Regions from separate parts of the Homo sapiens genome. Here region 1 is linked to region 2. The links come from fine-mapping of genetic effects on gene expression. A gene starts in region 2. The other region holds a variant in brackets. All regions are shown on one strand. Distances are between the middles of the regions.

The links. PIP is the estimated chance that this variant, and not a neighbour inherited with it, causes the effect.
Region 1: its variant is fine-mapped to the expression of IL1RAP in whole blood (TOPMed, PIP 0.92).

What each region holds. Positions count from the first base shown.
Region 1 is chr3:190,567,890-190,572,889 of GRCh38, forward strand. All of the region lies in intron 3 of IL1RAP (interleukin 1 receptor accessory protein), which reads left to right. Among named protein-coding and RNA genes, the nearest start is that of IL1RAP, 56 kb to the left of the region's middle. The variant C/T (reference allele first, on the strand shown) is at 2,769.
Region 2 is chr3:190,510,804-190,516,337 of GRCh38, forward strand. It overlaps IL1RAP (interleukin 1 receptor accessory protein), which reads left to right and starts at 3,282. Exons shown (of 12, transcript NM_002182.4): 1 at 3,282-3,416. RefSeq lists enhancers at 2,629-2,718, 3,471-3,972, 3,973-4,472 and a silencer at 2,869-3,218.

The DNA.
Region 1 (5,000 bases), 57 kb after region 2:
AAATGGAAACTTCAGCTCAATACACGTCTCTTTTGCTGTGCCTCATTGGCAGTGTGTCAGGAAGCTGAACTGTTAAAAGCTGCCTTTGGAGTAGACATAAATTTTGGAACCTGTGATCCCAAGTTGAGGAGGTAATAAAAATAGCACCATATAGAATATAGTGAATTTAAAAAATATTACCATATCAAAATTATTTGCTGGACAAATCACATGAAAAAGAGAGTACACTGCCACCCCAAAATGCAGGCACACACACGGATCTTTGAGAAAGATTTTATTTCAAAGTCAACAGTTGACTGTGTGCCAGGTGCAGGGCTGGATTTCACACACATTATCAGGAACTTCGCAGGAACCATTGTACAGGGGTAGGGGCTGGAGACTCTTCTACCTGTTTGATAGTTTAGGAAATGAAGATCCAGGGAGGTGGCCCAAGTGCTCATGATAGCCTGGCTTGCCTGATAGAGCCAGGCTGCCTTGACTCCAGAAACAGTGCTCTTTTTTATTTTTCCATACTATAATTGCCTTTCTTTAGGACTGTGCTCTGCTACTAGAAGTAAGATCCTCTGATTCCTTTTCCATTATATTTTACAAAATTGGTAGAGAATGGAAATCATCTATCCAATGATTGGGAGTGAATTATACAATGCAAAATAAATAAATAGTAAAAAACACTGTGGTTTCCTAGTAATTGAGAGATTCAAGTTCTGTTTTACTCTGTGACTTGTTTGATGACAGTAAAGGGGTCATTTCATCACTTTTTGTCATTGCATCCTTATTTATAAACCAAGCCAACCAACCAAACAATTAACAAACAATAGCAGCAGATCCCAGTCAATTCCAGTTTCTTGATTTTTATGAAGGAACACTATGCATCATGGACACACACAGGGTATACTCCTATTAGCTACTTAAATTCTTTCTAATAACAATGTTAACAATGATTTCACTTTATTCTAAAGATCATGCGTTTGACCATTTTAGATTGTAGAATCCAGGGTTAGTAAGAGGAATTTCTTATTTTAAGAGGAATACAGTAAAGTTTGAGAGAAGGAAGAGGAAATAATTACCAAATAGAATTCCGTGAGAGCAGAGAAAGTTACCAATCCTATCAGGAGATATTGGGGAAGACTTAATCATTGCTCCTTCCTAGGAAGAAACGCATCTCTTATTTGGGAATGAAATAGTTCAGGGCAACTCAAAAGATAGTGCAAAGGCATTTAGAAGCCAAGCTGGAAAGGTAGGTTGGGAACAAATTATGCAGGACGGGAATTACTTCAGGTAAAGAGAATGTCCACATTTAATGTATTTTGGTTATAGTTGGCTAGGTTTCTTTTCCTTTTTTTAAATTCTGTCGTATTTTTGCAAGGACATACACTATTATTAATTCTATGTGATGGTTCTTTCACCTTTTGGTAAGAATTCAGTTTGTTACCAGCCCCAGTGGCCTCATTTTATTTGAATATCCTTGCTTTAATAACTCCGTGCTCAGATATACTTGTGACATTGTGTCCTGTCCCAGTTGCCCATGGCTGGTCATCCTGAACACTCTTCATTTCTATGTAATTTAGTCCAAACATTTGGAAAATGTATGAAGAATACTGTTTCATTTTATTCTTAGTCCTAAAGGTCATTGGAATTACAGAATTTCACCCTGTTGTCATTTAAATGATGCCTCTCGGAAGCAGATCTCTTCACTTTTTTTTTTTTCTTTAGCTGTGTTTATAGCTTGAAGCACACTTATATTTTAGTTACTTATATTTCCCAAGGGTGGATTTACTGTAGCCTGATTGAAAAGAAATTTAAGTACCACATAATTGGCTTGATACTGAGTTTGCAAATACACAGCTTCTTGTATCACAGTGATAATTCTAAGTTTAGAAAAATGACCTGGTTCTTTTTCACATGGCTGTGTTAGTTAAAGGAAACCAGTATTTTTGTAGGAACTCCTGCATACCGTTGTAGGAAAAAATGTTTGTTTTACAAGAATTTATTCTACCCTTTGAATTACCTTTGTTTTTGCTATCCTTTCCCTCACTCCCCCAACCCTGAATATTCATTTCTACCATATTTTAGGGACCAGATTGCCACCTTAGCAGTGACTCACTACCAAGACCAGTTTCTACCCACTTTTCTTTCACCACTTAAAAAGTTTCTTTTCTGTTTAACTGATTAACTTTTTAGAAAATAAAATATATACCCACCCAGGATAACAACACAATGATTGCTTTATTTTTAAATCCACTGAGTGCTGCCATCTCTCATTTATTTTTGAGGAACAGTGAGAAAATGGATACATTTAACAAATAATTTGGGAACCTCAGTCACCTTCAAGTTACCTGCTATCCAAACCTATAAAAGCTGATGTACAAAATTTTCTGGCTTTGCCTTTGCGTGTTTTAGAGATAGTGGGAATAATGAAAATGCAAGATGACTACGACAATGAGAGAAAATAAATAAAATAATCACTTCCTCAGCAACCTAGACCATATTCTGTTGTGTTTTATGACATTCATTTCTCCTTCTACCATAGGAACCAAAATGCTTGGTATAGCTATACATTACTGGGAAATAAATAGCACTTTTCTGCAGTGTTTGTAGGGTCTGAAATAGTTTAAGGCTCTTATCCATCAGCCCATTTTTTTTTACTTCTGAGATACTTTCATATTTATTTATTTATTTATTTATTTATTTTTTGAGACGGAGCTTCGCTCTTGTTGCCAGGCTGGAGTGCAATGGTGCGATCTCAGCTCACCTCAACCTCCACCTCC[C/T]AAGTTCAAGTGATTCTCCTGCCTCAGCCTCCCTAGTAGCTGGGATTACAGGCATTTGCCACCATGCCCAACTAATTCTGTATTTTTTTGTAGAGATGGGGTTTCTCCATGTTGGTCGGGTTGGTCTGGAACTCCTGACCTCAGGTGATCTGCCTGCCTCAGCCTCCCAAAGTGCTGGAATGGCAGGCTACTTTCATATTTTTTTTAAAGTGCTCTTTAAGGTTTATAGTAGTGTTCATTTTGATATGTGCACCAAGATACTGGTGTTTGCGTTTCCCCCTTCCCTTATGTAAGAAAATGTTATGGTCTCTTTGAGATTTGGACTTGCCACCCAGTGCTACCAAGACTGACCAATTTAGTCTATTTGCCAATTACGTTTCCTCAGTGGAACCTTCTCCAGGACCTACTGCATACGTGTAGATACTCAAGAGGAAAGAAAAAGAAAACAGGCACATCGATCATGATTTTTTTTATGTGTGATTTTTTCTGTTAACTATTGCTTTTTATTAATTTATTATGGTGGGTTTTATTTTTTCCTAATTACTTACCCTTGCATAAGAAGTATAACTATGGGCCAGGCACACTGGCTCATGCCTATAATGCCAGTACTTTGGGAGGCTGAGGTGGGGAGATTGCTTGAGGCCAGAAGTTTGAGACCAGCCTGCACAAAATAATAAGACCCTGACTCCACAAAAAAAAAATTAAAAAAATAGCTGAGTATGGTGATGCACACCTGTAGTCCCAGCTAATCAGGAGGCTGAGGTGGGAGGATCACTTGAGACTGGCCGGTAAAGGCTAAAATGAGCTGTGATCACGCCACTGCACTCCAGCCTGGGCGACAGAACAAGACCCTGTCTCTCTCTTTCTCAAAAAAAAGTACAACTATAGTTGAAATATAGACCTTTATTATTATTACTAGATGAGAGATTAAATTGTATTTATCATATGTAAAATGACATTTCGAAGTATTTATACATTGTGGAATGACTAAATCTAGCTAATTAACATATGTATTACCTAACATAGTTACCATTTTTGGAGTGAGAAGACTTTAGATTCACTGTTATCACTTTAAAGCAAGCTTGTCCAACCCGTGGCCCGCGGGCCACATGAAGCCCAAAACGGCCTTGAATATGGCCCAACACAAATTTTGAAACTTTCTTAAAACATTATGGACTTTTTGTGATTTTCATTTTTAGATCATCAGTTATTGTTAGTGTTAGCTTATTTTATGTGTGGCCCAAGACAATTCTTCTTCTTCCAAAGTGGCACAGGAGAGCCGGAAGATTGGACACATCTGCTTTAAGGCAAACAGATATACAAATTATTGTTCCCAAGTGGATACCAACCATTATTAATTATTATTTACTGTAGTTTTGTTTGCCCTTTTTTTCAAGGGGGAGAAATCTTTAATTGTTTGCCATAGACTTATCTGATGACCAGATGCAAAAACCTACTAGCTTTAAATTGATGCACCTGAGTTAACCTGAATGCCCTATCCTTCTCTAGCGTTTGGGACTTCAGACTATCCCAAAATTGCTTAATGGACTGATGTTTGATTTTTAGAGTGAAAACATTAATTTTATTCTTATATTTTCAATGTTTTTTGAATTTTTAAATTTATCTGGTCATCTAGAGAAAACTGAATTTCTTATATGACAGATATTTTGACATTCACAGCTTGATTCTACATGTCTTTTTGTCATTTTCTGGTGTCCACTCAAGGTAAAGGCAAATAAGAAAAAAGAGAAGAAGGAGAGAAAAGAGGAATAATGAGGGAGAGAGGAAGAGAGAGAGAGACCTTTTTTTGAAAAAGAGAGATAGTAGGAAAAAGAGAGAGAGAGGCATAAAATGCAAAGAGAAAAATAGAGATAAAATATTCCTACACGGGTTTCCTGGATCTGATGTAAACCCGGCTATATACTTTTTTCAGATTACCAAAGAAGCTAAACCATTTTTAATACCACATTTAAATACTCCCCCCTTTTTTTCCTGAGCTTTGCATTGAATGGTTTCCTTTTTGAACAGTTAATGTTTTCTAGGTTTTTTTGTTTGTTTATTTTACATTCTTACTCTTTCCCTCCTTCCGAGTATATTAAAATGGTGAGAGAAAATAGAAACCTTAAATATTCCAGAAGTTTCCTTACATCTAGTGCCCCTACAGCCATGAGAGTGGTCAGCATGTCCAGGGTTAATGCTTTGTTTTTTTTTTTTTTTTTTTTTTGAGACGGA
Region 2 (5,534 bases):
ACAAAGTCTGGTTTGGGCTTTAGATTTAGATTTGCAAGTTATTATCATATTGATATTTTAGAAGGCCATGTGTCTGTCTGAGTTCCCCTAGGTAGAGAATATAACCACTTCAAGGATTGAGCTCTAGGACACTGGAACCTTCAGAGATCATGAAGAGGTAGAGGATTCAATAAGAATCTGATAAGGAACAGCAGATGAAATACATGAAAAACAAAGAGTCAAGTACGAGAGAGTGTGAAAGAGCAACAGATTATCTGTGTCTAATGCTGCTGATACATGTACAATGAAGACAGAGAATTGATCACCACATTTGGCAAAGTGAAGATCATTACAGATGCTGACTGTGGAGTGGTAGAGATAAATGTCTGAATGGATTGGGTTCAAGAGACTAGCAAACTCCTGATGCGTCTTACAGCTACAGCAAGATAATTAAAGATAACCTAAAAAAAAGGTGGAGGGTAAAAGCTGGGAGAAGAAGAGAATAATAATACCTTTCCAAATACATCAATCAATTGCAAAATATTTTATTGTGCATCTTCTATACATCCAGCAGTATTAGTCACTGACATCAATGAATTTGTAGCTTCATTTATTCATTTAGGCAACTATTATTCATCAAATGTTTAGTATGTGATGGATATTTAATGGGTATAGCTTTAAAATATTTTTCTCAATTGTTAGCATAACATTTTTTCATTTTTAATTATTACGGGTACATAATAGGTGTATATATGTATGGGTGACATGTGATGTTTTGATACATGCATACAATGTGTAATAATCACATCAGGGTAATGACAACAGGGTGTCATCACCTTGACCATTTGTCACTTCTTTGAGGAACATTCCAATTTCACTCTTACTTATTTTAAAATGCATAATTAATTATTGTTGACTGTAGTCACTCTGTTGTGCTATCAAGTGCTGGGTCTTATACATTCCAGCTAATTATATTTTTGCAACCGTTAACCATCCTCCCTTCCCCACAACTCCCTTGCCTCTGCTACTCTTCCCAGCCTCTGGTAACCATCATTCTACTCTCATATCTCAGTTCCTTTGTTTAATTTTTAGCTCCCACGTGTGAGTGAGAATTTGCAAAATTTGTCTTTCTGTGCTTGGTTTATTTCACTTAAATGTAAAAGGAAAAAGAGATGTTTCTATTTCTGTAATCCTAACATATCAACATTTTTTCACATTCCTTTCAATTGGTGTTCATCTCTCCACAACTTTTACTCAACCTTATTTTGTAAGCCTTTTTCTTTGTAGACATATTTCCATAATATGATAGTTATGATGCAAATATTTTATTCTGTGCGTAGACAGCGTTGGTTAACTAATCATTTTCATTTCCAACCATTTATATTGTGTTCAAACTACAATATACTATGAATATTTGTCTATATGATTATTCATCTTAATGTTATCTTCCTTAAGCTATGAGTAGCCCTTCAATGTCCGGGAATATACATCTGGTTCAATTCTGAATTACTAGCATCTGTTTGGCTTCTAGGTAGTACATGAGACTGAGTAGCGGCTGAGAGCATGAACGTCGAGTGTCTCTAGTCTCATTTTGTATTCTCCACTTGTAGGCCTGTAGCCTTGGTCAAGTTATTTAAATTCCCTTTATCTCCTTTATGAACTGGAGATAATAATAGCACCCTCCAGGTTGTATTGAGGGTTACCTGAATTAATATACACAAAGTCCTTATGATTGCACCTTTTTATTTTGTAAGCACTGTGTAAATGCTTCAGTGTACTATATATATATAAAAGTCTGTGCCCAGAATATATTTAAGGAATGAATAATAAATCAGAAAATGTTTTATTGTTGCTTCATACAGGTAACATTTTAAATTCTTTTGGATTATTTTCTCTTTGGTTCAGTGACAATGTTGTGAGCAGGTGCTGGGTCCCAGGTATCCTGAGATAAATAAAAATTTTGAGCAATTAATTTTCATAAGTGATGTCAAGAAGTAAAGTATCATGAACATTTCTATGGCTCCAATTACACTGATATTTCACCTTAGGAACTGAAGCTCCGCCAGGGCAGGGGCAGCCTCTGAGTTTCGTACTGCTGTGCACCTTTAGCAGCACGGGCACCTGCTGGTTTCATTTCCTTCCCACTCACCTGGGCCCTTTTCTTATTTCACATCTTTTTTCTCCTTTTCCTTAAATGCTTTCTCTGAATCTTGATTCTTGAAAATAAATTAGTAGGATTCAGTTAGGTAGGAGGAGGAGAAAAGAAGATGTGATGAGCAAGAAGATGTGCGAAGACTCGTCAGTCTGGTAGGTGGCTTTGGTTAGGGGGTTTCAGAAATGGGGACAGGTCATGAAGGGCCTTGCCAGTCAGGAAAAATCATGAGGCACTAGCAGTAGGAACACAGCAGAAGGTGCCTGAACAAGAGAGATGACTTAATGAAAGCCTTTATAACGCTTCCCGGGATATATTACAGACTACCATCTACAGTGGCAGAGGGCAGCTGAAGGAAGGCTCTTGCAAAAACTTGGGGAAATGGAAATGAATGAAGGCAAATATTTGTTTTGAGATTATTTCCTTCTATGTAACCTATTAGTTCTTTTATTCGTTCCCCATACATGTATTGAGTGCCTACTTTGTGCCAGGCACTGTGCTAGGCAATGGGTATATTACCAGTGGACAATACAGATTTAGTCTTGCTGTCATGTCCTGTTGCTTGCTCATATGAATGTCAGTTCAAGACAGCAAGAGCTCAGGACTGCGGAGATCGCATCTACATCCTGCCGCGCTCTGTGCCGGCACAGGGTGGTTGCGAAAATCGTGCAGTCTGAATTGATTCAAGGCCTTGCAGCATGATTGCTAAATACGTCGAGACAGGAAGAAAGGGCAGGGTGGCACCGATCTCAACTGCGAGAGCACGATCTTGCAATGAGCGCATGTGTGCGCCTCGGTGTGTAGTGAGGGGCGTAGCTTCCCACAGCGCCTGGCAGCGTGCCGAGCTGCGCTGCAGGACTAACCCTCTCCTTTCCCCGCGCGCTCAAGCCCGCACAGGCGGTGGCAGGGAGCCGAAGGGGCCGAGCGCAGCCTTGCATCCGTCCGCAGGCGGGCCCGGCGCCGCGCCTCCTGGCGGCGGGCGGGACCGTCCAGGACGCCGCCCCGCGGCCGCAGCTCCTGGAAGCCCAGAGCGCCGGTGGATCGCGAGCCAAGGCGGCGGGTGGAGCCTGAGCCGTGAGGCCGTGGCCAATCGCGCCGCTCCGGGGGAGGAGCCCCAAAGGGGGAAAAGAAAGTGCGGCGGAAAGTAAGAGGCTCACTGGGGAAGACTGCCGGGATCCAGGTCTCCGGGGTCCGCTTTGGCCAGAGGCGCGGAAGGAAGCAGTGCCCGGCGACACTGCACCCATCCCGGCTGCTTTTGCTGCGCCCTCTCAGCTTCCCAAGAAAGGTGAGTCTCGCGCCGCCGTGAGGGCTCAGAAGTCACCAAGCCGCAGAATCTCAGGGTAGACGGATTCTTAGAGATCCTATCGTTAAACCCTCCTACTTTACAGAAGAGGAAACTGAGGCACAGAACGAGGCAGCGGCTGGGATAGGTCATACTGCTAGTTAGGACTGGAGCCCGGATTCGAACCCAAACGTTCAGAGACCCATCTTTGCTTTGCAGGGATTTAAGTAACGCGGTTGTGGGACGTCTGCTCGTTGCCGCCCCCATCCTCAGCCCTTTGAGGGGTCTACCCTTGTTTTCCTCCTCACCGCCCCCTCCCCGCTACCACCCCCCGCCCCCATCTCCTCCTTGGTTTCTCCAGACCGCTGCTGGAAGCGCCGAGGACAGAAGGAAGCGGTGTGTCCCAGCACGCCCACTCGGTATCACGTCGCTCTCAGCGCAGAGCTGTGACAGCCTGGGAAAATGCTGCTTGCAGCCTCACTCCCTCTTCCCCTGACCTGCTTTCTCAGAAAGATGCCCCTTCAGAGGGTGTCGGACCAGCTTCTGGAGGAGCGCGGGGAGAGAGGAGCGAGGCCCGGGCGCCAGTGACCTCCTATGGTACTGTTTCTTCCCAGCCCCGGAGGAAGCGGAGCTAGTGGCCCTGTGGGGCACAGGGTGCCCCTCACTTGGGAAGAGCTGACTTCATGGAACCATAGAGCCCCTTCCCTCTTCTAAATACTGAGAGGGAGCAAGGAAGCTGAGTTAAAGAGAAAATCACAAACATAAAAGCAAACTTCGGCTGTTTCCTTTAAGAGCTAGCCCACAGCCTGTCTTCCCTCCACCTTCTGGTTGTGAAATTGTGAACCAGGGCGCCACGCGAAGCATTCTGCTGCTCTGCTGTACAGATCCCTGGTTTAGCTACTGGATGAGAAAGAGGACTTGAGTTTTGACTCCAGCTCTTCCATGTATTAGCAGTGTGAACTTGGGCAAGTTATCTCACCTTTCCGATACTGGGTTTTTCTTTTCTTTCTTTCTTCCTTTTTTTTTTTTCCAGCCAAAAAATGGAGATTTATAATGGTCACAATGAGCCCTTTGGGTAGTTGGAAGGATGAAATGGGATCATTCAAGTAGCATGTTTAGCACAGTGCCTGGCCTGGCATCTGGTTGGTTCAAAACCAATGGCAACTATTGTAAATATTGTTACATAGTAACCTTGCAGACAGTGGGTTTTCAGAAAGGTGATTTCATACCATCTTACAGAGGCATTTTAAAAAAATCTGTAAATGTGGTGTCTTTCTTCTTTTGAATTTGAGCAACTCTTTTATAATAAGAATTTTCTGAATGTTGTCCATATGTGATGTGGATCATGGATGCTTAGCTCGAAATGTAAAATTGATGTTTCTCGGTGATATGAATTTCCTACTAGTTTTTAGGTCAAACCTCAGGCCTGTGAACTGCCCTGATCTGAGACATCCTTTATTGACAAAGAGGGTCTTGAAATGGGTGAGAGGCAGAAAGACAAGAAGACAAAGTTGGAAGTTGCAGCTGTGTTACAGATTATTCTAAGCCTTCTATCCTTGCTCTCTTAGGTCAGTCGAGCAACCTTACATTTTTCATCTAGTATCAGAAAACAAACAAAATTCTCATATATTTCTTTTGGATTGTACAGAGATGCTGCTAAATGCAAACCTTTCTGGACACAAACTTGCCTTATTTAAACACGAACACACAGACATTCACATGCCCACACTAGTCTTCCTGTATTATTGGTATTTTAAAGTTAAATGGATTCCCTCCCACACCCTTAACCCTTCTCATGACAATTGATTTTATTCTGATGAACTTCATGCAATAATTTACTACTATCTACTGGCTTTGCCATGCGTCCTTAAATTGAGTGTCCAGCATTTGTAGTTGGCTGCCTCCTTCACAGGCCATAGCATTTGTATGCAGTATTGGTAAGTGCTTGAGAACAGAGTGTGATACATCTTGATGGAAGATAAGAGCCCAGTGGTGCCCACTTAAGTACCTCCCGCACCAAGCATTAGTAAAGGATGGGATCACCTGCTTCTATCAGCTTGTTCCATGTACATGCATTGTGGTGAGCTGGCTGGGATATGACTGAATGTGTGCCTGAGAGAC